Linked DNA regions of Homo sapiens: regions 1 and 2 are each linked to region 3. Evidence: fine-mapped expression QTL. A gene starts in region 3. Each other region holds a variant in brackets. All regions are shown on one strand. Distances are from middle to middle.

Region 1 (8,210 bases), 22 kb before region 3:
TTCTAAGACATGTTCCCCCAAAGAGAAGCTGGAACATTCACACCCATAATGGGAACAGGCTGGCTCTACTACAGGACAGCCCAAATACTGCATCACACAAGGTAAAGGACAACAATTCCTCCAGAATACACCCTCCCTGTATCAGATACTGGTGATTATTCTATTCTATTCTATTCTATTCTATTCTATTCTATTCTATTCTATTCTATTCTATTCTATTCTATTCTATTCTATTCTATTCTATTCTATTCTATTCTATTCTATTCTATTCTATTCTATTCTATTCTATTCTATTCTATTCTATTCTATTCTATTCTATTCTATTCTATTCTATTCTATTCTATTCTCGAGATGGAGTTTTGCTCCTGTTGCCCAGGGCAATGGCACGATCTCCAGCTCACCACAACCTCTGCCTCCCGGGAGCCTCCCGAGTAGCTGGAATTACAGGCATGCACCACCACACCCGGCTAATTTTTTTGTATTTTTAGTAGAGACAGGGTTTCTCCATGTTGGTCAGGCTGGTCCTGAACTCCCGACCTCAGGTGATTCACTCGCCTCGGCCTCCCAAAGTGCTGGGATTACAGGCGTGAGCCACCGTGCCTGGCACTGGTGATATTTTTTTAAAGGCCTAAAAGAGCAACAGGCAACCCAGAACTCTTTCAAAATCCTTCATGTGGGTTAAAGTTTTCGGCTTGCATGTGTAGGAAGAGGGCTTGCAGAAACCTGCAGAATTTATCCTTCATGAATTGCCCCACTGCTGACTACAGTGCTTGAAAGTAAAAGAAGACCTGAATAAAAAGTCCATTCAGCTTTTACATTCTAACATTATCGTGTAGAATGTTTCCGCTGCACCCGGTGTGCAAGAAGAAAAGTTCCACAGAGCCCCAGCTTTTCTCCACTGCCCTTAAGAACTTGGCCACAAATCCAGGTTTATTTGCATGCTGATACAAAACAACTCTGGCAAGGGGACAAACAACTCCAAAATGCTTTCCAAAGAGAAAAACCAGCCCTTCCCAAGTGGCAAGCCAGTTTTTTTGACCATGAATTACAAAGGTAGATTAAGAAACCCCCAGCTCATTAGGACAAGGTGAAAACTGCTACTTGTTCTGAGCCTTTCATTATCATACTATTCTACCTTTAGCTCTTGGGCAAACTAGTTTTCTTTTCTTTTTTTTTTTCAAAAGATAAATGTTACGACATGTTAAGAAATACTCATAACTGAGCCATGAAGACCGAACGCATCCTGGTACAGAAGTGAGATGCATAGCTTATGTTTACAGCTTCTCATAATCGCAGAAGGCTCTGGATTCATAGGCGTGAGTCAAGCTGAGTTAATGTCTAAGAGAGGAAGAATCCTCCCAGAGCTGACCCTCAAAGCCTCCAGCTCCCAGACCCTGGAATAGGACTTGAGGCTCACTGCCTGACTCCACACTCTTGCCCAAAACATCGCCGGAGAACAAGGATGAGAATTCAGCAGGGTCACATTAATTCACAGGCTGGGAAAAGGTAATAAAGATAGACTTGAAAGCCAGTTGGCAAGGCGGGCCTACCAACTGAAAGGGTCTTTCAGCACAGGAAAGAAAGCTCACCTCTTGGTTTTTAACCTTACTATTAATTCTTAAATACAGATGGATCTTTATAATGACACTTATCCTAATAGCTGAAGAAAACATGGTAGCTGGCATCAAAAAGTGAGTAAAGCTTTACAACTCGGACATCACTTAGAGATGGCAGAGGCAAGGGAGATCCAAGCCCTCACCCACTGGTTCTCAGACACCTGGAGAAGCAGCAGCACTCCCTCGTGCAGATGTTGACCGCACACTGCATCTGGGCACAAAAATCCACCAGCAGCCACAAAGTTGAGAGTCACCCGCTCCTGACCCACTGCTGAATTCATCAGGTCCCTCTTTTTCAAAACCTTTACTGATATTTCACAAAGAGCTTGGTTGGCTCTTGGGAGCCAATATAATGGCATATGAGACAAGAACTGATCCCGACCAGGGTGGTCACTCTGATCTCCCCGGTCCTCGGGTCACGAGGTGACTTGGCATGGCCCATAATGCAGAGCCCCCTTTCCAAACCAATAAGTAAGGTACATCAGAGGCGCGGGGCCTCCACTCCTGCCCATCACCAACCACCAGTCTCAGCCCTGTGCCCTCTGCAATCAAGGACTCAGCTAACACTTTACATAAGACACTTGCCACCTGGCTGCACGCCCCCCAAAATATGCCCTGATTCCGTCTTTGGCATTCACACTGGAAAGGACATTTCAAAGCTCTGTCTCCAATCCAGAGAAATGTTCTCAGAGTCTGAAGCCCTGGGGTGGGTGAGTCAGGTGGGGGGGACCTCCAAGCGTCCCAGACCACAGCAGTCTTGTCGCACACAACAGCTCTGGTGCCCAATGGCAACCCGAAAATCAATGGGTTCCCAAAGGAGCTGCCCTTGGGGCTAGGCCAGGCCCAAGTTACTGTCTTCTTTGGAGCTTCGGGCTAAGGCTTCTGGCATTCTTTTTGGGGGAGGGAGCGGACTCTAAGAAATAGTGAACAGGAGAGGCTGGGGCTTCATTCCTTCCCTCCCTTAACAAACATTCCTGAGGCCACAGGGGGCTGCTGACACCCAGCTGGTGTATTTAACGCTTCCTCATGAATCCCCCAAACAGCTTTGTGGAATTCAAGCCACTCTAGTGACATTTTAGAAATCAGTCCCCTCCCCTCCCCCCACTGAAGACTTCCACTGGTTGAATGGATGGGAACAGAAACATGCAAAAAACCCACCAGGATCACATATATCCACCATCTCTACTTCCGTTACATAGATTCCTACAGCATGGATGTTATTCCTGCCCCCTCTCTAACAACAGCATGGAAATATGGGTTTGAGTGCATTTTTTCCACCAACTGTAGCAAAATTTCAAGGCAGAAATCAGCAGAAACGTACTGAGGAGTGATGAATCCTGTCGCCATCTGTCAGCGGAGGTTCTGCTGGGCTTCATGCATGCACCCCAAATTCCAAGAATGCTACTCCTCTGAAGTTGGTATCCCTTTAGCTTCAAACTAGACCCAGAGAGTAGTCAGTCCTGATTCTGAACAGCCACTGTGGATGCCCATAAAACACAGCACTTGGGAGTTCCTGCTTCAATTTCCTTTCTCCAGCTACAAAAAATGCAGATGAAGCAAGTATTTGTTTGAGTTTGACTATGTAAATAAAGCCTATTCTCAGGGCCAACGCGTGGGAGGAAAACAGCTCTCCATGCAAACACTGGCAATGCCAGAGGCCTCTAAACACACCACCCTAAAGGCCAGTCTATTCAAAAAGAAACAGAAGTTTTAAGAGCAAGAATCCTTTAAGAGCAAAGGTGATATATGGTTAATCTAACAAAAGAGATTCAAAACCAGGCTAATTTTGCCCCCAGAGGACATTTGGCAATGTCTGGAGACATTTTTGTCATCACACCTGGAGAGAGGTGACAGTAGCATCAAGCAGGTAGAGGCTGGGGAGGCTGCTGAGCATCCTCCAAAGCACAGGGCAGCCCCACAGCAAAGAGATTCAGCTCACAAAGTCCCCAATGCCAAGGCTGGCAAACCCTCACCTAACCGATGTGACGAAGGTATTCAATATGGCATTGCAGGAGATCCCAGACCCAAGCAGATGGCACTGACTGAAGGGGAGCAGCAGGCTTGAACACTGGGGCCAGAGTCTGATTCTTAGGGCCTTTCCCAGGACTCAACAGTTTGTGACCTCAGGATACACCATTTGCCCTGCCTGGGCCACAGCTGTTTCATCTATAAAATGGGCTGATAAAATTCCATCTGAAGACCAGGACCGAACCAGCCTTGTTCTTGACACCCCTCCCAGTTCTACTACACGCACTCCCATGAGGCTTTCAAATGATACCCTCATTATCATAAAGAGAAGGTGCGCTCTTACCTTAATGCAAGCTATCCCCAAATCAGAGTCTGCTAAATAGCAAGTGAGTTGTACAGTATTCCAGGGCTCTAATATGTAACTATTTAATTACAAGTGGAAAAAAAAAAACGATTAGAAGAGCTATTTTTTAATGAGCCCCAGTGACTTTTCAGTAGCTTTTGGGAGAGGAAGATTCAAAGCTTGGATTAATCCACATTCTGAGCCAAGCGCAGTGGCTCATGCCTGTAATGCCAGGACTTTGGGAGGCAGAGGAGTTCGAGACCAGCCTGGGCAAAATGGTGAAACTCCCCGTTTCTACAAAAAATTTTAAAAAATTAACCAGGCATGGTGGCGCACATCTGTGGTCCCAGCTACTCAGGAGGCTGACAGAACAAGACCCTGTCTCAAAAAAAAAAAAGAAGAAAGAAAGAAAGAAAAGAAAAGAAATAAAAGAAAAAAAAAAGAGGAGTGTTCTGGCTGGGCAGAGTATACACACTTTATGACTGTCCACCATGTTTCCAAAGAAGCCAGTGTGATAAAAGATTACACATTGGTCAAATTTATAACAATGGCAACCTCTTTC[C/G]TGAGTTCAACAAAAATTTAGTGCAAAGCTAAACAAGGCTTCTCCAAATCCCTCCACAAAGTTTTGTAATCATAAAAGCGACAGAAAATATAGAATGGAAGACGCTGGTGTCTCATTTGCTATTTGAACAACAAAGCCATCCCACTTCCCAAACTGATTACCAGTGCGGCGGGTTAGGAATCACTTAATTTCTTCCTGCTGTGGAGAGGCAGGAAAGCCGAGAAAACCAGTAAATTATCTTCAAACGCTTCTAGTCGCCAAGAATCTTTACATTTTAAAAGGAACTTCGTCCACACGAAAGGTCCGACTCAACCCTTCCCAGAGAAAATGACCACTACACACTTTTAACTAGAACACAGGGTGACTGGACTGTTGTTTATGTGTTTGCTTTTACAAGTTCATACAGGTTCAACTGGTAAGTTTCCAGATGGATTTTGTTTTGAGACAATAAAATTCAATGTTCTAAAGCAAACCACACACACACACACAACATTCCTGATGAGATACATCTGGAATTTCTTTATTATTATTAGAACTCGGGTCCTGCTCTTAGGAAGCAGGCTTTCAGGTTTCTCTAAGTTTGCGCAGGTATCCAGTGCGCAGTGGATCTGGGACTGGAAGCCGAAAGTCAGTAAACATTGATGGGCTGAAGGGAATCGAGAAGTTGCGCTGGCGACAGCTGCTACTCTGGATTTCGTAGTGATCACAGGCACGGGTCCAAGGGGTGCCGAACCAGGGACCCCAGAGAGGCAAACATAGGTGGGGACGGCTCGGGGACACGTTCCTTCGCTGGCCTCCAGGCAGCCCCGCAGGTGCAGGCCGCCACTGGCGGGCCCGGGAGCGCCAGAGGACCCGGCCAGGCCCCTGCCCGGAGGAGGGAGGGGGAGGGGAAAGGGACTCCGGGCAGGAGCCATTTAAACTCTGCGAGGCGCGGGGAACCGCCAGGATCACACGCCCACGCCGGTCCCGGCGCCCAGGCCCGGCAGGTGACCCCAGCAGACGCGCGCGCCAGACCCGGGGGCGCGAGCCTACCGCCCCTCCCGCGCCCCTACCTCGACGCGCCCCGCAGGGCGGCCAGCTCCCGGCTGTCAGCGCCCGCGCCCCGCGGCCGCCTTACCTTGGTGATGACCAGCGGCTCGCCGTGCTCGCGGCCGCCCTTCAGGGTGAAGCCCCACGGGGCGCCGCCGCTCAGCTGCACCTCCACCAGGCGCCCGCCGTCCGCCGCCCGCGTCTCGGCCTCGGCCAGGCGCTCGGGCCGCGCGCGGGGCTCGGCGCCCTCCATGGCGCGACCGCTCAGCGTCCCTGGCCCGCGCCCATGCACTCCGGGCAGTCCCGGCCGTGGGATCGCAAGGGAGGCTCCGAGCGCCGCAGAACTTGCGCCGTAACTTGGAAAGAAAGTGCCGGCCCGGCGGCGGAGGGAGCCCGGAGGGCTGGCGGGGAGGGGGCGGGGCCGGGGCCGGGGCCGGGGCCGGGGCTGGCGGGGAGGGGGCGGGGCCGACGGGGGGCGGGGCGGGCGCGTTCGGGAGCTCGTACCGCGGGGCCGGTCACGGGGAGCGCGTCCAGAGGTCCAGCCCGCGGCCCGAAGGGTGAGGGACGGGGTCAGGTGCGCGCTCAGGGGCCCACGCGGCCGCTCGTACCGGGGAGAGCTGGAGAGGGGCGCGCCCCGGTTCTCTCGCCCGGTGGAGGGGAGCGGGCCGGGAGGGGCGCTCAGGCGCGCGCGCCGTTCAGCGGGTTCGGGGTCGGGGTCGAGGAGCGCGCGCCCCGGGGCTGGCGGAGCCAGCGCGGGCGAGGACGGGGGCGGAGGCCCCGGCGCCAGGTCGGGCCTTTCCTCCCGCGCCAGAGCTCTGCAGTGCTTCGAAGCTCTGGGCGCCCCCGCCCGCCGGTTGGAGGCCAGGACCGGGCAGGTGAGGCGGCAGGTGAGATGGGCGCGGGGTGGCGTGGCGGGAGTCTCCGGCCTCCTCCGTCTCGGGGCGCGCGGCCCGCCGGCGCCCACACTTTGTTCTCGCGCACCGCGGGCTGCCGCGCAGGTGAGAGCGGAAGCGCCGCGGGAGGCCCTGGTGCCCGCGCTGTGGCCGCTGCCCCGGGGCAGAGGGACCGCCCGTCCCGCGCGGCCCTGCGCGCACTCACACTCTGGACTTAGAGAGCCGGGAAGGGCGCCCCCCAGCAGCCTGAGCCGGGCGCGGGTCCGGCCTCTGGAGGGGCTTGGAAGGCGGGCGCAGAAGGACCGTGCCCCGTTTCCACGAGGGCCTTCCCACCTTCCCGCAGAGGCCTCCCACAGCCACCGCGCAGAAAGCCGTTGCGTCTAGATGCTGTCCCCACTCGCCTAGGATTGGACCACAAGGTCTTCAAGTTTCCCAGGTTTACATCCCCGAAAAGGGGAGGTGGAGGTCTGGGATTGGTGAAAGTTTGCGGACAACATGTGTGCCACCTCTTCCTGCTCGGTTTCAGTTTCCATGAAACTCTGGTCTAAAGTACCTGCATGGATAGGTATTTACATGCTTTGCAAAAAAGCTGTTTTCGTTGCTGTTTCTATACGTAGCTGAAGGCTGGTGAACACCTCTTTTCTCTAAGCAGCTCCATCCAGGCCCTTTTCAGAGGTGACGATGCTGGAGTACGCATCCAGGACAGGCCGGGAGAGCACTGGACAGAGAGTCAAGGGTCCCCGGGTCTGGGTTCTGCCACTGTCAAGCTGGGACAAGAAATCTCAGCTCTGGTCTGTTTCTTCAGAGGTCAAGTGAGAGGGGTGCATTCTGTGGAGGTGTCTCATGCAGCCGATTAAATTCAGAGTCGCAGCTCCACTGGGCACCTGTCATGGCGCTGGGCACGTGGTGACTGCCCCATAATTAACTTCTAACTACAGTCTCTGAATGCCTTTAGTTAGAAGAATGAGGCGATTTTTTCTTTTTCAAAGATTAAACGAAGGCTTAAGGAATGTGCCTCTCAGAATCAAGTCGAGTGTATCTTCACTGTGGTGATGGTCACAGGAGCTGCCAAGTTGATTAAGCTAAATTGCACAGAACTAAATGCACGTGAAACGGGAAATCTGAAAAGGCTTGGTGGATTGTATCAATGTCCATATTCCAGGTTGTGACATTGTGCTGTAGTTTTGTAACGTGTTGCCATTGGAACAGGCAGGTGAAGAGTGAAGGGTGCACAGGACTTCCCTGTATTATTCCTTACCAAGAGGCGAAGCCAGTTGGGTGGGGACTCCGAGAATTTTTCTGTCTTACAAGAGGATTGTAAAATGCACCAATCAGCGCTCTGTGGCTAGCTAGAGGTTTGTAAAATGGACCAATTAGCACTCTGTAAATGGACCAATCAGCGGGATGTGGGTGGGGTCAAATAAGGGAATAAAAGCTGGCCACTGCAGCTAGCAGTGGCAACCCGGTCCAGTCCCCTTCCATGCTGTGGAAGCTTTGTTCTTTCGCTCTTCACAGTAAATCTTGCTGCTGCGCACTCTTTGAGTCTGTGCCACCTTTAAGAGCTGTAACACTCACAGCAAAGGTCTGCAGCTTCATTCTTGAAGTCAGCAAGACCAAGAACCCACCGGAAGGAACCAACTCTGGACACATTACAACTACATGTAAATCCAGTTATCTCACAAAGTTTAAGAAATGGATGGATATGATAAACCAAAAGATAAAGAGCTGTATAAATATACCCAGTGTGCTTATTAGAGTTTGCAGACATGTCCGTCTCCCAAAACAGCCCACTCCCTACC
Region 2 (8,210 bases), 52 kb after region 3:
CACTAAGACTTAGGCATTCCTCACCATGTTTTAAGAGCTGTAAACAACGTTGAACAATAACATTCCACAGGCCATTTCTTGATTACAGGGATGACTCTACCAACATGCCAGCAGCAGAGAGGGTGAGTAGTGGTGTGCAAATGCTGGAGGCTCTGAAAACGGCTGTCCATGGTGTTGTCCCGCTGAGAACGGGGATGGATATGAAGGGTGCTAGCTGCATCTCGCGCTTGGTTTTGCTTGCGGCCGCAGGCTGGGGAAGCCAGGGATGGAGCCTGGGGTCCGAGGCCTCCCAGCCCAGGTTTCTACCTAACAATTCCGACATGGTTCACATTCATCAAGACTAAAGCCATCCCTCGGGAGAGACCCTGGCTACCGACATTCATGTGAAGATTGTCTAGTGAATTGCTTGCGACACATCCCACCATCGCCATCCCACAGTTGTTACTGGTTTGTCAAGCATAAGCCATGCCCTAACGACAGGCTGGCCTTTGACAGCAGATGTTCTACAGAGATGAGTGCATTTTTATTTGGGTGGGGTAGAGATGGTGTCTTTTGGACCCCAACAAACTGTACTCTAAACTTCACAGAGTCCTTGGGACGGGAAATCATCACCTCATCCAGGGACACTGGCTATCTTCAAAGATGGGTGCGGCGACTCCACATCACTGTGACCTTCTTTGCTAAGTGTTTCGGAAACAGAACACGAATAAAATACTCATCTCAGAACCAGAGCACTTTTTGGTCTTCTGGGACATGAATAATTCACATACCCAAGTGGAGGCCAATCAATGATCTGAGAATGATCAACGCACCCTGGCTTTTGCAGGTGGTCCTGGCACGTTCCAAGTTCCACAGAAGCCCTGACCCTTCCCCGATGGCTGGGTTTTGGCTCCGCAGATGAATGCCACCTTCACAATAACACCGTCTCACTGCTGGAACACACACCAGATTGCACCCTACCCACTGCTGGTGACCCAGCAGCCCCCACGGGCTGGGCCATCTTCCTCAGCCCTTCTGCCCACAGGAAAACCAATGGGAGAAGAGGCCCTTGTCCTTTGGCCTTTTCCCCCTTGCTAATGACAAAAATAAGTCCGTGTCGGGTTATGACAGCAAGCAGATGGAGGTCACCAGATTCACTGAAATGAAGCTCTTCTAGGAACACAAAGCCTTGTTTAATTTTTTAAAAACAGCAAAAAGATTATTTAAAAAAGATCTTTCTCCTAGTCTTCTGTGAGACAAAGAAATTATAAAGATGGCAGAAATTATTAGCGACGTTCTACCTCTATAATTCACGTTCAGGACTGAAAATCTTCCTTCTGCATTCATTTCTGTCAGCGTTAGACTAAGTGACATGCGGGCGCCTCTATGTCAGCTCTGCAAGGACTCGCCAAGCCTGCTCTTGGAGAAATGACCATCGGTCGTTATACGGTTGTGGGAAAGATGTAGCCAACACGCCTAATCCAGCCGAGCAGTCGGTTTCGACGGCTTCTGCAGTACCTTATGGTTCTGCCAATGCTCCCTTGAGGCCAGAGGGCGCGCGGCTCTTCGCTGCTTTCCTGCTGGCTGCCAAGGTGCATACACACCAAAAGATGCGAGGTTCTTCTTCCAGCCGGCATGGCGGGGACCTCCCTCACTGGCTGCAGAGCAATCTCGCTGCTGACCCCGAAGACTGACCCTTGTCCAGCCAGAGTTTTCCTGACCACCTTTCCTGAGGCTGAGGGGAAAGCCAGGGGCTCCCTCAGGCCCTGCCTGTGGCTTCTTCGGTTCTTTTTAAAACATGAATCACACAAAGCTCTCTATGTCTGATGGCCATTTTAAGATTTTAAAATTGTTTTAACATAAAAATATTATTTTTTTTTCCAAAAATACTCCAGGCTCTTTCTCTTATAAGTCATTTTTTTTTCTCCTGTAAAAAGCCCCCCTGCCCTGCCTTCTTACATAAAGCACTTACTACGCGCCAAAGTGCCCTTGAGACCTAAGATCTGAAGCAACTATGAGAAAGGTACAGAGGGAGAGAGAGAGAGAAAGAGAGCACGCCAGTGAGAAAGCGAGCGCGAGCGCGAGCGCAAGGGGAGGAGAGGGTGGGAGAGGGCGGAAGGGGGAAAGCTGTCCGTGGGAGATTGTGTCTTCATGTCCACGGGGCTGCATCTCTTGATGGTGCACTGAAAAAGCAGAGCTCACCAGACAGAGTGGAAAGGCAGGGGGAGGGGCAGGGAGCAACAGAAGGAAGAGACAACAAGCCCAAGACAGCTTCCATCTCAGACGGAAGGCCCCCAGAAGATAGAATTCCAGCCGACTGAAAAACCACCCAATGAACAAAGAAGATTCTAGAAAATAGAAAGTGTTGGGATTACAAAGTTGCGCGTTTCATCGGTACAAACTGGTCTTTGAACCTCCTTTGTGAGAGCAATTGTAGTGTCCAAATTGTTAGGGAAAACAAAAAAAAAAAATCCCAAGGAGGAGGGTTTTTCCCCCTTCCCTGTTTGGTTTATCACAGCATTTTGCTTTTTTTTTGGCACAGCTTTTTACGTTTCTTTCCATTCAGCCATCACAGAGCCTGTTCCGGGTGGAAACCAATCCACACGCCTCGAGCTGGTGACTTCCTCCTTCCCAGGCTGAATGTCCTCAGTGGAAACCATTCTATCCCCGTTTGATATGATTTGCTTCTGTTTTTGCTTGCCTTTTAAAAACTTCTTGATGAAGATTACGAAAACATATAGACTCCTGCGGCCAGAGACGAGTTGGTTTCAGAGTACACTCTAACGCAAGTCAAGTTCCTACAGTTTTGGAGAATAGAGCTGCAACCCTACACATTCACGGCTGGTCATTAGAATTCTTTTCTTTTTTCGATAATATTTTGTGGTTACTTCCGCAGATCCAAAACACACACCTGGAAGGAAAGATAAAGCACCTGTCATCTTGAGAGACAATACAAAGATGCCTTTAGAGTGAGAAGTCGGCAAGCTACGGCCCCCACGCCCAATCTAGCCCTCCACCGATGTTTGTCAGTAAAGTTTATTGGAACATCGTCATGAAGGGTCAGAGAAGCTCTCATAACAGACTGGCATCTGGACATCGGACCGAGCAAACTGAAGCAAACAGCACAGAGCAGAAAGGCCAGGTTAAGGGTAATGATAGGAATTAACAGAGTGGCAGAGGTCCCAGAAGGGACACCTGCAATCGTGGGGCAGATGACAATACGAGCCCAAGTACACAGCCTCTGACAACATTTGGGGACTACTCTGACCCTTGGCCGTTCAGCCAGAACGGCCGCTTGCCCCAGAGGTCAGGGCAACCTCAAGTCCAGGGGAAAATAAGAAATCCAGATGCCCCATGGGAAGAGAAGAGGGCCCAGGAGACCTGCAGGATGGCCACCAGAGGCCCGGGCTTCTCAGCCACAGCATGGGTGACAATTGTGGCCACCCTGTGCACAGTAGGAGGTTTAGCAGCATCCTCATCTAAGCACAGTCACGCGTCACATAATGACGTTTCCAGCAACAACGCACCGCACAGACCGCAGTGGTCCTGTAAGATTATAACCATATATCTGCTGAACCTTTTCTATGTTTAGATAGATCCGGACGCACAAATGCTTACCATTGTGTTCTGGTTGCCTACAGGAATCAGTATGGTCACCCGCTGTCCAGGTTTGTAGCCTGGGAGCAATAGGCTGTACCACACAGCCTCGGTGTGGGACAGGTATTATCATCTAGGTTTGTGTCAGTCACTCTATGATGTTCAGACAAAGATAAAAGTGCCTAATGACACATTTCCCAAAACGTTCCCGTCATTAAG[C/T]GACACATGACTGTAGTGACAACCTAAAATGGCTCCAGATATTGTCTAATGTCCTTAGAGGTGCAGAATCACCCTGGTTGAGAACCACCAATTTGACTGAGAAAATGTTGACTAGAAGGACACTCTGGAAGGGACAAGGAGAAGGCCATTCCCAGATGTGGTACCAACTCCGATGGGATCCAGCCCAGAAGCTTCCTTTGGCACTGGGCTAGGCCCTTCAGGACACGAATGCTGCACACGCCCTGGAAGCTCACTTAGGCATCAGCTGCCCCCAACACCCCACTCCCCAGCAAACCAGAGGTGTTGCTTACAGAGCCGTCGGACGCGCTGGCACCCACTTTGTCTCCTCGGGCGTTCCAGCACACCTCGAAGATGCCGCCAGTGCCTCGGTAGCTGTGGACAAGATTTCCACTCTGCAAAGCAAAGCAGCTGTCACTTACAACGCAAGGGGCGCCTGCGACAGATGCAGGTGTGGAATGTGCGCTCCTCCGGCCCTGACGTTTCGTCATGAACATTTTCAAGCATGGTGAAATTTAAGGGTTTTCAGTAAGGACTCTGGGGGCCATGGAGATGTGCCTCTAGGACTTCCCACCACGAGGAGTGAACCTGATTACTTATGCCTGCGGAATCTGCCACATTTGCGTGGATTCTGAGGCTGCACCCAGCTGAGGACTGATGGAGGCGGGAGACCATGGCAGTCACCTGCTGAGACTCAGACTCATCTGGTGGGTAAGTGGCTCATGGACTCTCCATCAGCACGACCAAAACTTTCTACAGACCTGTAAGGGCCATCCCTGACTCTTCCTACCCTTCCCGTCTCCTTCCCAGGGTCAGACTGGCCTTATGGTCTGAATTCTCCCTTCCCCCTACCTTCCTCCCTGTTTCCATCACAGCTCTTTCCCCCAATAAATCTCTCGCCCATCTAATCCTGTTCTGGTGTCTGTTCTTTGGAGGACCTGAATGAATACAACATAATGAATACACCCACCCCAGTAGCAATTAAATTGACTGTAATTCATGATTAAATGTAATAATATGCCATGACATTAAAATGTACGTATTTTTGGACATTTGAAAGAAGAAATGCATAATATACATGTAATGGAAAACACCACAGACCATTGGTTTCCGGTTTAAAACAGCATTAACTTGACAAATCTAAGAGGTAGGGGAAGTTGAGGCCTTTGAAAGAGTTGAATAAGGCCAGGCGAGGTGGCTCACCCTGTAATCCCAGCACTTTGGGAGGCCGAGGCGGGAGGACGGATTGAGCCCAAGAGTTCAAGACTAGCCTGGGCAACACAGTGAGACTTCGTCTCTACAAAAATTAATTTTAAAAAATAAAAAAGAGAGAAAGAGTCGAATAAGCCTTCACTCATGATTCACTATGGTGACAGGCAGGAGAAATCTGAACACCGAGACCAGGAGGGCTGTCCCAAATCCTCTGCTCAATTGGGCCCCTTAAAGGGTGGTGTTCCATGAACTGAGAAAGGTGTGTGTCGGCAGTATTACAGATAAGTATTTTTATACTTGGAGAAAGATTAAAGTGGGCTTTAAGATTTCTCTTAAGAAAATTCCTAAGGATTTCTTGGCCGGGCGCGGTGGCTCATGCCTGTAATCCCAGCACTTTGGGAGGCCGAGGTGGGTAGATTGCCTGGGGTCAGGAGTTCAACACCAGCCTGGCCAACATGGTGAGACCCCGTTTGTACTAAAAATACAAAAGTTAGCCGGCTGTGGTGGTGCGCACCTGTAATCCCAGCTACTCGGGAGGCTGAGGCAGGAGAATCGCTCAAACCCGGGAGGCAGAGGTCGCAGTGGGCCGAGATGGCATCACTGTACTCCAGCCTGGGTGACGAGAGTGAAACTCCGATCCAAAAAAAAAAAAAAAAAAGAAAAGTCCTAAGGATTTCTTTGATTTATAAAAAAGGGTTGAAACAGTTCAGTGAGTTCCTGACAACAGGCTGTACCTAACTGATCATGTCATTGTTTTGATAATTGATGTGTTCTTTTTACAAATCCACCCATTACTATTTCTAGCGAGGATTTCAGGAACGGAGACTCTTGGACACTAGTGCTGAGATGCGTGCTTCCCGGAGAGCTATCTAGGGCTGTGGGGCTGGGCTTGGCGTCGGGTTGGCTCTACGCAGGGTCCACCATTTCCCTTCCTTCCCTGAGAGGATGTGGTTCACATGAGGTCCCTGGGAAGCCTGTGATCTCAGTGGACCCCTTGCCAGTGAACAGGGCTCATCACCATTGAGTCCACAGGGGGAATGAACTTGAGGGTATAAATCCACCTGAATGTCAACCAAGCCAAAAGGAACCAAGAAGGCAGTGCAGATGAAAGGGGGCAGGGGGAAGGCTGTGTGATTCCTCCCCTCCTGAGGCGAAAGGGACCCCTTCCTTATTTTCAACAGCTCCTAGCATATTATCACCTCTCTCTTCCCTTAGACTAGAATCACGTGCTGATGGCCCTATACAATCCTTTATGCTATGCAGTGCTACTTCCCATCCATTTCTACACTTTACAGCTGGAATTCTTCTATCCTCAGGTGTGGCCCAAGATACCCACAGCAGCCACCTTTATTTAAATCCTATGTCCTTTCAATCCCTGCTAAAAGGACAACCCAATATTGACATACCTTATGTCCTCAAACAGAACCTACTTTGATTTGAAAAATTGAGGCTAGGCACGGTGGCTCACACCTGTAATCCCAGCACTTTGGGAGGCAAAAGTGGGCGGATCACCTGAGGTCAGGAGTTCAAGACCATCCTGGCCAACATGTGAAACCCTGTCTCTACTAAAAATACAAAAATAAGCTGGGCATGATGGCGGGTGCCTGTAATTCCAGCTATTCAGGAGGCTGAGGCAGGAGACTTGCTTGAATCTGGGAGGCAGAGGTTGCAGTGAGCCAAGATCGCGCCACTGCACTCCAGCCTGGGTGACAGAGTGAGACTCCGTCTCAAAAACAAAAACAAAAACAAAAAACAACAACAACAAAACAAAACAGAAAAGAAAAATTGAAGTGGCATGACAACAGCAAGAGCACATTCCTTCCCACTCCCTGGTCTGCTCCGTAAGGGAGCTGCAGGAGCTGGTGTGGCCTTGACCCCGTTAGCTGGTCCCCCACTCCCACCTTCTAACCTCAGTATCTAGAGAGCAGCACTTCGGTGATAACTGCTAAGAAGAGGAAGAGGCAGGTGGAAGGTTTCGTGCCATGGACTCAGAAAAGTGAACAGAAGACAGCGGCTCCTTCAAGGAAGAACGTGTGCCAAGGTGAGGGTTTGGAATCAAATGGCCAAGAGCCATGATTACGGTGGACACGACGCCCTTCCTCAGGGAGGGGAGCTGCCGGAGGTGTCTGGTGGGGGAAGAGCTGACAGCCCACGTGGGGTGCACGTGGACAGCATCCACTGGGTCTGCCCGGGGAGCCTGAGCTTGCTCAACTCCCTCCGGGGCACTGCTCTGAGCCAAGGGCACTGGAGTCGTGGCTATTTGGGCATCCCTTACTAAAAGGATTTGGTGTAGGGGTCGGGAGCTTACCTGAGTATTCCAGATATGGACGCACTTGTCGAAGGATCCACTGGCCAAGTACTTCCCATCAGGGCTGAAAGCTACGCTATAGACAGGCTCCTGATGCTTCGTGAGCGTGTGGGTGCAGACGCCTCGTTCTATGTCCCACAGTCGCACCGTAGAATCAAACGAAGCACTAGCAAGGTGGGAGAGAAAGCAAAATCACATACACACGGTGGTTTCAAACAGTTCTCCATAATGTGTATCAGATCTCCAGGAGTTGTTTTTCCCAGCTTTTACGTTTCAAAAGATAATAACTAAAAAGCTTTTTGTCTTCTAAACTGTAACTACTTACAAGTATTAAAAACAAAGCCATAGTCATTAAACAGAAAAAAAGCTTTAATGGTCTTATTAGGGAAACAATTTGATATCTACATTTGTTTCTGCACCTTTTTTTTTTTTTTTGAGATGGGGTCTTACTGTGTTGCCCAGGCTGGAGTGCAGTGGCGTGATCATGACTCACTGCAGCCTCGAACTCCTGGGCTCAAGTGATCCTCCCGCCTCAGCCTCAGCAGAGAAGCTGCAACCATAGGTCCACACCCGGCTAATTTTTATTTTTTTATTTTTTGTAGAGACGGGGTTTCACTGTGTTGCCCAGGCTGGTCTTGAACCTCTGGGCTCAAGAGATCCTCCTGCCTCACCCTACCAAACTGTTGGGATTACAGGTGTAAGCCACTGCGCCCAGCCCTGTTTCTATGTTTCCTATAGACGTAAATGGTAAATATTTTTGTAGAATATTTATCAAGTTTCCTAAAATGCCCCTACAATTTAAAACATGACATCTATTATTACCAACTAAATTAATACAGACAGCCATATTTGGAAAAATAGCAAATTAAGTGAATAA
Region 3 (8,210 bases):
ATTAAGAGCAGTGCCATTCATGAACTGGCCACAAGATTCCCAAGAAACCCAGCTGGTTACACAGGAACATATGAAACCACTCCTCAGAAACCTCCCTAGGAAGGAAGGGTGAGCAATACATCTGCCAGTGACTTCCTGCTTCCTCTCTCATTGGAATAAGTTTGTCTGCCCCACTAAGTGTTAATCCTCCTCCATTTCTCGGTTGTTGCCCAGCCTTTCAAGCAGCTGCTAGATAAGCCAGAGCCTCAGGTGGTAGACTTACAGGAACTGCAGCCTATGGCCCTTTGCCTGTTTTGTAAATAAAGTTTTATTGGCACACAGCCATACCCATGGACTTATGTATTGGCTGGTCTTCCTCTCTCTCTCTCTCTCTCTCTCTCTCTCTCTCTTTTTCTTTCTTTCTTTCTCCTGTTCTTGCTCTGTCGCCCAGGCTGGAGTGTAGTGAACTCCTGACCTCAGGTGATCTGCCCGCCTCAGCCTCCCAAAGTGCTAGGATTACAGGTGTGAGCCACTGAGCCCGGCTTTTTTTTTTTTTTTTTTTTTTTTTTTTTTGACTGGGGGAGGTGGGGGACAGGGTCTCCCTATGTTGCCCCAGGCTGGTCTTGAACTCCTGGGCTCAAACAATGCTCCCACCTTGGCCTCCCAAAGTACTGGGATTACAGACATAAGCCACTGCACCTGGCCATGTTTTGTCTATATCAATTTAAGTATCAGTAAAACCCACTTGGAAGGCTCATTCTGAATATTAAATGAGATAATGAATGTAATATTCAAAGCATAGTGCCTGCCTACACTCCATAAATTATTTTATTATTTAAATCTTATTTATTAGGCTGGGCGCAGTGACTCACGCCTGCAATCCCCGCACTTTGGGAGGCTGAGGCGGGCGGATCACCTGAGGTCAGGAGTTCGAGACCAGCCTGGACAACTTGGCAAAACGCCGTCTGTACTCTAAATACAAAAAATAGCCAGGTGTGGTGGCAGGCGCCTGTAATCCCAGCTACTTGGGAGCCTGAGGCAGGAGAATCACTTGAACCCGGGAGGCAGAGGTTGCAGTGAGCTGAGATCGCACCACTGCACTCCAGCCTGGATGATATAGTGAGACTCCATGTCAATAAATAAATAAACAAATCTTATTTATTATTTAAATTCAAATTATTGTGAATGGCAGTCTCCTTACTTAGGCTGTTTCTGCCATCCATCTGCCCCTAGCCACCTCCTCTACTGGATTCTAAGGGATATCTGAGTCTCACCATAAACCCCATTCTTTTGGTTGAGACATCTCGATGTCAGGGGACTCACCATGAAAAATAAACTGCCTGGGAGAGAAACTCAGGAACCGTCTTCCAGCAGTTGATCAAGTGCATCTGATCAAGTGGGAATGGTGGGTAAATGGTGGATTGTGGAATGAGAGAAAGCCAAGATGATGGAGCATTTCCAGGGAACAGATGCCCCAGGCAGCCCAAACTGTGAAAATGGAGAGCGAATTCAGGTGCTAAACTGGGAAGGAGGGAAAAACGGAGGAAGGGTTCATGCAAAAACAGATGTACCTTCATGTACTCAAAGACCGATTGTTTCTGCACACATACCTCAAAGTTCATATTCAGCACCGCCATCCCTGTATCTCCCATATCTACGAAACTTCCAGATGTTTCTGCCTCCCAAGTGTGTGCGTGTGTATTTGCTTCACTTTTCTCAGATTTGTAGTTGTACTGTTTCATGAAAAGTTTTGTCAGGCCAGGCATGATGGCTCATGCCTGTAATCCCAGCACTTTGAGAGGCCAAAGCGGGTGGATCACTTGAGGCCAGGAGTTCAAGACCAGCCTGGCCAACATGACGAAACCTATCTCTACTAAAAAGACAAAAAATTAGCTGAGTGTGATGGCATGTGCCTGTGGTCCCAGCTGCTCAGGAGGCTGAGGCATGAGAATCACTTGAACCCAGGAGGCAGAGATTGCAGTGAGCTGAGATCACGCCACTGCACTCCAGCCTGGGCAATGGAGCAAGACTCTGTCTCAAAGGAAAAAAAAAAAAAAAGTTTGTCATCTCAGTTCACCCAAGCTGGAGTTTGGTGGTGCAATCACAGCTCACTGCAACCTCAAACTCCTGGGCTCAAGTGATCCTCCCACCTCATCCTCCCCAGTAGCTGCAACTACAGGTGCGCAGCAGCACGCTCTGCTAATTTGAGATGTGTCGTCTTCCTCTAGGGACAGCAGGACTGGCCTTCCCTTGGGACCCCACAGAAGGCAGGCAGGAGGCTCCACTGCCAGACAGGAAGCAGAGCCTTATTTAACAACAATGAGCTGCAAACTCCACCACTTCAAAAGATGCTGCTCCTAGAGGAAGACGCTAGAGATGGGCTCTCACTATGTTGCCCAGGATGGTCTCAAACTCTTGGGCTCAAGTAATCCTCCTGCCTCAGCCTCCTTAAGTGCTGAGATTACAGGTGTGAGCCACTGGGCCCAGCCTCTCATACCAATTTCTAGTTCCCTCTCACTTTGATGACAGGGTTTTAAATTTAGTCTTACACTCATGCTTCTGCACCTTTACTCTGAGGCTCATCTTTACCATTGTCATCTGTGCCATGGCCCTAGGAATCTGCATTCATATCCATTTTCTCACTGATGAGATTCTGACTACTGAGCTTGAGTAGTGGGCACCAGAGTCAGCCAGAGCCCCCTGGAGAGTACTCCCAGGTTATCACGTAGGAAGCAGAGAGGCGGAGTGTGTTTTCTGGGGCATGAAACAGTGACTCAAATGCAGGGACCCCTTTGCCTGGCCCACTGGCCCTCAACCTTCAGGCAAATGTACAGACACTCTTCATTTTTATCTTTTAAAGCACTTTCCATTACACTAACCTCCAGAAGCAACTCTGCTTACCAAGGCAGAAGGAAAGAGAGCCACTGTCCAAATTAGATATTAGAATTCAAGCTTTTAAACATTAATGCTTGGGGAGTAGTTCTATGGTGCTTCTGACTGTTTTTACAATGGAGTGTGTAATCCAGCAGAGCTGTTAAGCTTTCTGAAGATGTCAGTCTGTTCTGACTTCTAGGAAGGCAGCTGTGGAGTGAACAGGCTGCGTTTATAGACGTGCCAGATCTGGACTCTTTTGAAGTGGTGGAGTTTGCACCTCATTGTTGTTAAATAAGGCTCCGCTTCCTGTCTGGCAGTGGAGCCTCCCGCCTGCCTTCTGTGGGGTCCCAAGGGAAGGCCAGTCCTGCTATCCCTAGAGGAAGACGGCACAGATCATGCCTTCCTTAAAACCGCAAAGCTGGTGGGGAGAACAAGTGAGGAAAGTCCATGAACACAATGGGGACACCTGCACCTTGGTTGCTTGAAAAAAACCCAGAGAGGGGCCCATTTTACCAGGAGAGAGGAGGAAGGGTGTCTCTTGTGTGGTCACAAAGAGCCAATGAGGTTTGTTGAAGATGATAAATATGATGGAGCTGGATTTTTTTTTCTTTTCTTTTTTTAAAATAAAGGCCATAATCTAGAAGGAGCACTTCTATTTTCAGCCTTGAAGAACTTAAAAAAAAAAATCTTAGTATGCTTACTGTAATCATTAACACAATATTACTTGGAAACTTACATGTATAGAATAAAGCAAGATTTTCAATGTATGAGAAAACATAGAAAAATTAACGCAGTTAAGAAAAATCCAAATAAATAGAACTGAAAGTTAAGGTGCAAAATGTGTCTGTGTGTACTTATGCTGAGTACTTTTCCCTTTATTTTTTTAATGTTTTTAAATTTTAAACTTAATTCTGTGTGTGTGTGTGTGTGTGTGTGTGTGTGTGTGTGTGTGTGTGAGAGAGAGAGATAGGGTCTCACTCCATTGCTCAGGCTGGAGTGCAGTGGTGTAATCTCTGCTCACTGCAACCTCCACTTGCCGGGCTCAAGTGATCCTCCCACCTCAGCCTCCCCAGAAGCTAGGGCTACAAGCACGCCCCACCACATCCAGCTAATTTTTGTTTTGTTTCGTTTTTTGATACAAGGTCTGGCTCTATCGCTCAGGCTGGAGTGCAGTGGCACTATCTTGGCTCACTGCAAACTCCACCTCCTGGGCTCAAGCGATCCTCCCACCTCAGCCTGCCGAGTAGCTTGGATCACAGGCCTGGGCCACCACACCGGGCTAATGTTTGTATTTTTAATAGAGGTGGGGTTTCGCCATGTTGCCCACGCTGGTCTCCAACTCTTGAGCTCAAGCGATCTGCCTGCCTCGGCCTCCCAAGGTGCTGGGATTACAGGTGTGAGCTACTGCTCTTTCTTTAACATTGATCTGTTTGTTTCATTCATTAATTGTAAACGAAAATCCTGCCTCTGTGGGATTATATCCATGAATGAGAGAGGCCATAAAAAAAAGCACTAATTGGACAACCATCTCTACTTAGGAAAAAAGCAGTTACAGGGATCAGTCACAGTTTATGAACATGTTCTGGCGCCTTAAAGGCATCAAAATCAGGATGTCAGAGTCCCAAATAGGAAAGATCTAGTCCACGAGGCCTGTTTCTCTAGAAGACCAGTAAAGATGGCAGGTTTGGCGCTCTAGGTGGCAGAGAAACCACCAGGAAGGCTTGGTGAATGGGGAGAAAGGTAACCTTCCCAACCTTTCTGCTTCTCCTTCCACTTCCCTCCTCCTCCTCCCTCTTCCTCTCCTCTCAGCCCTCCCTCTCTCTGTCCTCCTCCTCCGCCCGCCCAAGCATCACCTCGTGAGGCCTCGTGGCGTTAGCCCAGTGCTCTCGGCCCCCACCGAGCCTGGCTCTACTGCAGGCGCTGGGGGTTGGGGTGGGGGAGAGGCCCAGGGCACATGATGCCGCCCCCAGCCCGCCCAGCACATGACCCAGGCAGGCCGGCGGGGTCCTGGCACACCCGAGCCGCGTCCGCGAACACAGCCCATGGCCTCCCCGCGCCTAGGGACCTTCTGCTGCCCCACGCGGGACGCAGCCACGCAGCTCGTGCTGAGCTTCCAGCCGCGGGCCTTCCACGCGCTCTGCCTGGGCAGCGGCGGGCTCCGCTTGGCGCTGGGCCTTCTGCAGCTGCTGCCCGGCCGCCGGCCCGCGGGCCCCGGGTCCCCCGCGACGTCCCCGCCGGCCTCGGTCCGCATCCTGCGCGCTGCCGCTGCCTGCGACCTTCTCGGCTGCCTGGGTAAGGGCGCGCGCGGCCCGCGGGTTGGAATCTGATCAGCGCCTGGGTGAGGGCGCGTGGCCCGCAGGTTGAGACCCGACTGGTGCCCGGATAAGGGCGCACGGCCTGTGGATTTGGACCTGTTCCGTGATGGAGTGAGGACGAGAGGCCCGCGGGTTGGAACCTGCCCGGTGCAGGGCTGAGGGCGCGTAGCTGGCTGGTTGGGACCTGCTCGGTCCCCGGCTGAGGGCTTGAGGCCCGCGGGTTGGGACCTGCTCAGTGCTGGGGTGAGGGCGTGAGGCCCTGGGGTTGGGACCTGCTCAATCCCCGGGTGAGAGTGCGTGGCCCGCAGGTTGAGACCGGATCGATGCCCGGGTGAGGGCGCATGGCCCGCAGGTTGGAACTCGATCCACTCGGGTTGGAACTTGATCGGTGCCCGGGTGATGGCGCACGGCTAGCGGGTTGGGCTGGCCGTCTTAACACTTGAACCACAGAGAAAAGAGAAAGCGGAGGCTGTTCCCTAGGGACCGGATGGGACAACTAGGTAATTTTTTTTTTTTTTTTTGAGACGGAGTCTTGCTCTGTCGCCCAGACTGAAGTGCAGTGGCGCAATCTCGGCTCACTGCAACCTCCACCTCCCGGGTTCAAGGGATTCTCTTGCCTCAGCCTCCCGAGTAGCTGGGGGAGGCGCGCGCCACCATGCCCGACTAATTTTTGTATTTTTAGTAGAGACGGAGTTTCACCATGTTGGCCAGGCTGCTCTCGAACTCCTGACCTCAGGTAATCCACCCGCCTCGGCCTCCCAAAGTGCTGGGATTACAGGCGTAAGCCACCGCGCCCGGCCGACTAGGTAGTTTTGCAAACACATGGTCGGTAAAATTCCCATCCAAGGGACGTTGGGTTTTAAAAAATCCGTTTATTGTGTTTGTTATATGGAAACTTCAGATGGCGCAGTTAAGCAAAACCCAGACCAGAAAAGATTTCCTCATTTTTGCCCAACTGCACCAGGGAGAGACTAACAATTAACTTCTCTCTGTCTCGCTCTGTGTGTGTGTGTGTGTGTGTGTGTGTGTGTGTGTGTGTGCGCGTGTGTAAATTCTTTTCTATTGTGCACTATATATTCTCTCGAGTATTTTGTAAGCTGAAATCCCTTCCCTATCCAGGCTTTTTGGGTATGGTTTTTACACCACAGGTGCGCAAACTGCAGCCCTCAGACCAAATCCTGCCCGTTTTCTAGGGTCCACGAGCTAAGAATGGTTTTACATCCTACTTTTTAAAAAATTAATGATTTTGTTTTTTGAGACAGGGTCTCACCCTCTTGCCCAGGTTGAGTGCAGTGTCACAATCACAGCTCACTGCAGCCTCGACCTCCTGGGTTCAAGCGATCCTCCCACCTCAGCTACCCGAGTAGCTGGGACTACAGCCACACGCCACCATGCTAGGGTAAATATATGTGGGGTCTCACTATGTTGCCCAGGCTGGTCTCCAACTCCTGGGCTTAATTAAAAGATCACCACCCTTGGCATCGTAAAGTGTTAGGATTACAGGCGTGAGCCACCTCACCCAGCCCTAAAATGTTTTTAAAAATCAAAATTAAAAAATATTTCCTGGCATGTGACTATTACTGAAATTTAAATGTTAATGTCTACAAATAAAGTTTGATGGGAACGCAGCTATGTTGTTCATGTGCATTTGTGAATTATTCATGGCTGCCTTTACCCTACAAGGGCAGGGTGAATATTGGACTGAGAAAGTATGGCTCCCAAAGCCAAAAATATTAAGAATGAGTTTGCCAACATCTGCTTTAAACTATTATGTGACACTTTATACAGACCTCTCAGCTAGATTTGGCCATTCTGTTTAGCTTTTTGGAACATTTCCACCATGCGTAAATGCAGTCTATAATAGAAACACTTACAGTGAATCCCTGTACGTGGGATTCGTGAGGTACGGGTACCCGGCTCATCTGCTCCCCTCTTCACCCTCCTCACTGGATTAATGTGAAGCCAATCTCAGGCTCCATCATCCTGCCCATTCAGATCTCAGAGAGAGCCCTAAAACATAATAATTCTAAACATTTGCAACCCCAATATCATTATCACTTTATTTTTGAGACAGGGTCTCACTCTGTTGCCCAGGTTGGAGTGTGCTGGCATGATCATAGCTCACTGCAGCCTCGAACTTCTAGGCTCAAGGGATCCTCCTACCTCAGCCTCCTGAGCAGCTGGAACTACAGGCATGCATCACCACACTGGCTAATTTTTGCATTATTTTTTCAGAGCTGGAGTCTCACCATCTTGCCCAGGCTGGTCAAACTTCTAGGCTCAAGCGATCCTCCTACTTCGGCCTCCTAAAGGTGCGGTGGCTCACGCCTGTAATCCTAACTACTCAGGAGGCTGTGGTGGACGGATTGCTTGAACCCAGGAGTTCAAGACTAGCCTGGGCAACGTAACGAGACCCAGGCTCTACCCCCAAGAAAAAAAAAACAACAAAAAAAAGGCCCGTCATGGTGGGATGCACATGTGGTCCCAGCTACTCACCAGGCTGAGGCAGGAGGACCATTTGAGCCCAGGAATTCCAGGCTAGAGTGAGCTACGATCCAGCCTGGGTGACAGCCAAGACCCTGTCTCTAAAAAAGTAAGGTGTACCCAAACATCTTTTGAGGGTTAGTGAATAATACTTGCATATCCTTTAGCCTTTAGAAGGGAAGTGGATGAGGTTGCGAGCAAATAAGCAGAAGTCAGGAAAAGGCTGGGTGATCGGGACCCCTTACTGAAAAATAAGAAATTTCAATGCCCATGGGATAGGGCTTTTATTAAGCTCAAAGGAGTGATAAATGCTGAAAATTCTAAGGCACCGTACAGAAGAAAGGCATTGTTTTTGTTGGCAGTGGCTTGATAATGAGAAGATGTCTTGAGCTTTTTAGTGTTCACAGTTGTCGTTTAGTAGTGTATTACATAGTGTGTGTTTAGTGGTATATTACATGGTATGTGTTTAGTAGTATATTACGTAGCATTTGTTTAGTGGTGTATCGCATGGTGTGTGTTGCATATTATATGGTGTGATTTTAGTAGTGTATTGCACAG

Alleles and levels. Alleles are on the strand shown, and positions count from the first base shown. SD is a standard deviation of normalised expression in the study named.
For the expression in prefrontal cortex of the gene that starts at base 4,866 in region 3, allele G in region 1 goes with a lower level than allele C (small effect, 0.20 SD a copy in GTEx).
With allele T in place of C in region 2, the expression in tibial nerve of the gene that starts at base 4,866 in region 3 is lower (small effect, 0.26 SD a copy in GTEx).

The links. PIP is the estimated chance that this variant, and not a neighbour inherited with it, causes the effect.
Region 1: its variant is fine-mapped to the expression of GPR143 in prefrontal cortex (GTEx, PIP 0.98).
Region 2: its variant is fine-mapped to the expression of GPR143 in tibial nerve (GTEx, PIP above 0.99).

The regions. Positions count from the first base shown.
Region 1 is chrX:9,784,107-9,792,316 of GRCh38, reverse strand. SHROOM2 (shroom family member 2) reads right to left here and starts at 5,888. Exons shown (of 10, transcript NM_001649.4): 1 at 5,607-5,888. The coding sequence starts at 5,771. The variant C/G (reference allele first, on the strand shown) is at 4,490.
Region 2 is chrX:9,710,900-9,719,109 of GRCh38, reverse strand. TBL1X (transducin beta like 1 X-linked) reads right to left here. Exons shown (of 18, transcript NM_005647.4): 16 at 7,334-7,499; 17 at 4,107-4,208; 18 at 1-2,890. The coding sequence ends at 2,864. Among named protein-coding and RNA genes, the nearest start is that of GPR143, 51 kb to the left of the region's middle. The variant C/T (reference allele first, on the strand shown) is at 3,796.
Region 3 is chrX:9,762,503-9,770,712 of GRCh38, reverse strand. GPR143 (G protein-coupled receptor 143) reads left to right here and starts at 4,866. Exons shown (of 9, transcript NM_000273.3): 1 at 4,866-5,145. The coding sequence starts at 4,896. RefSeq lists an enhancer at 5,459-5,960.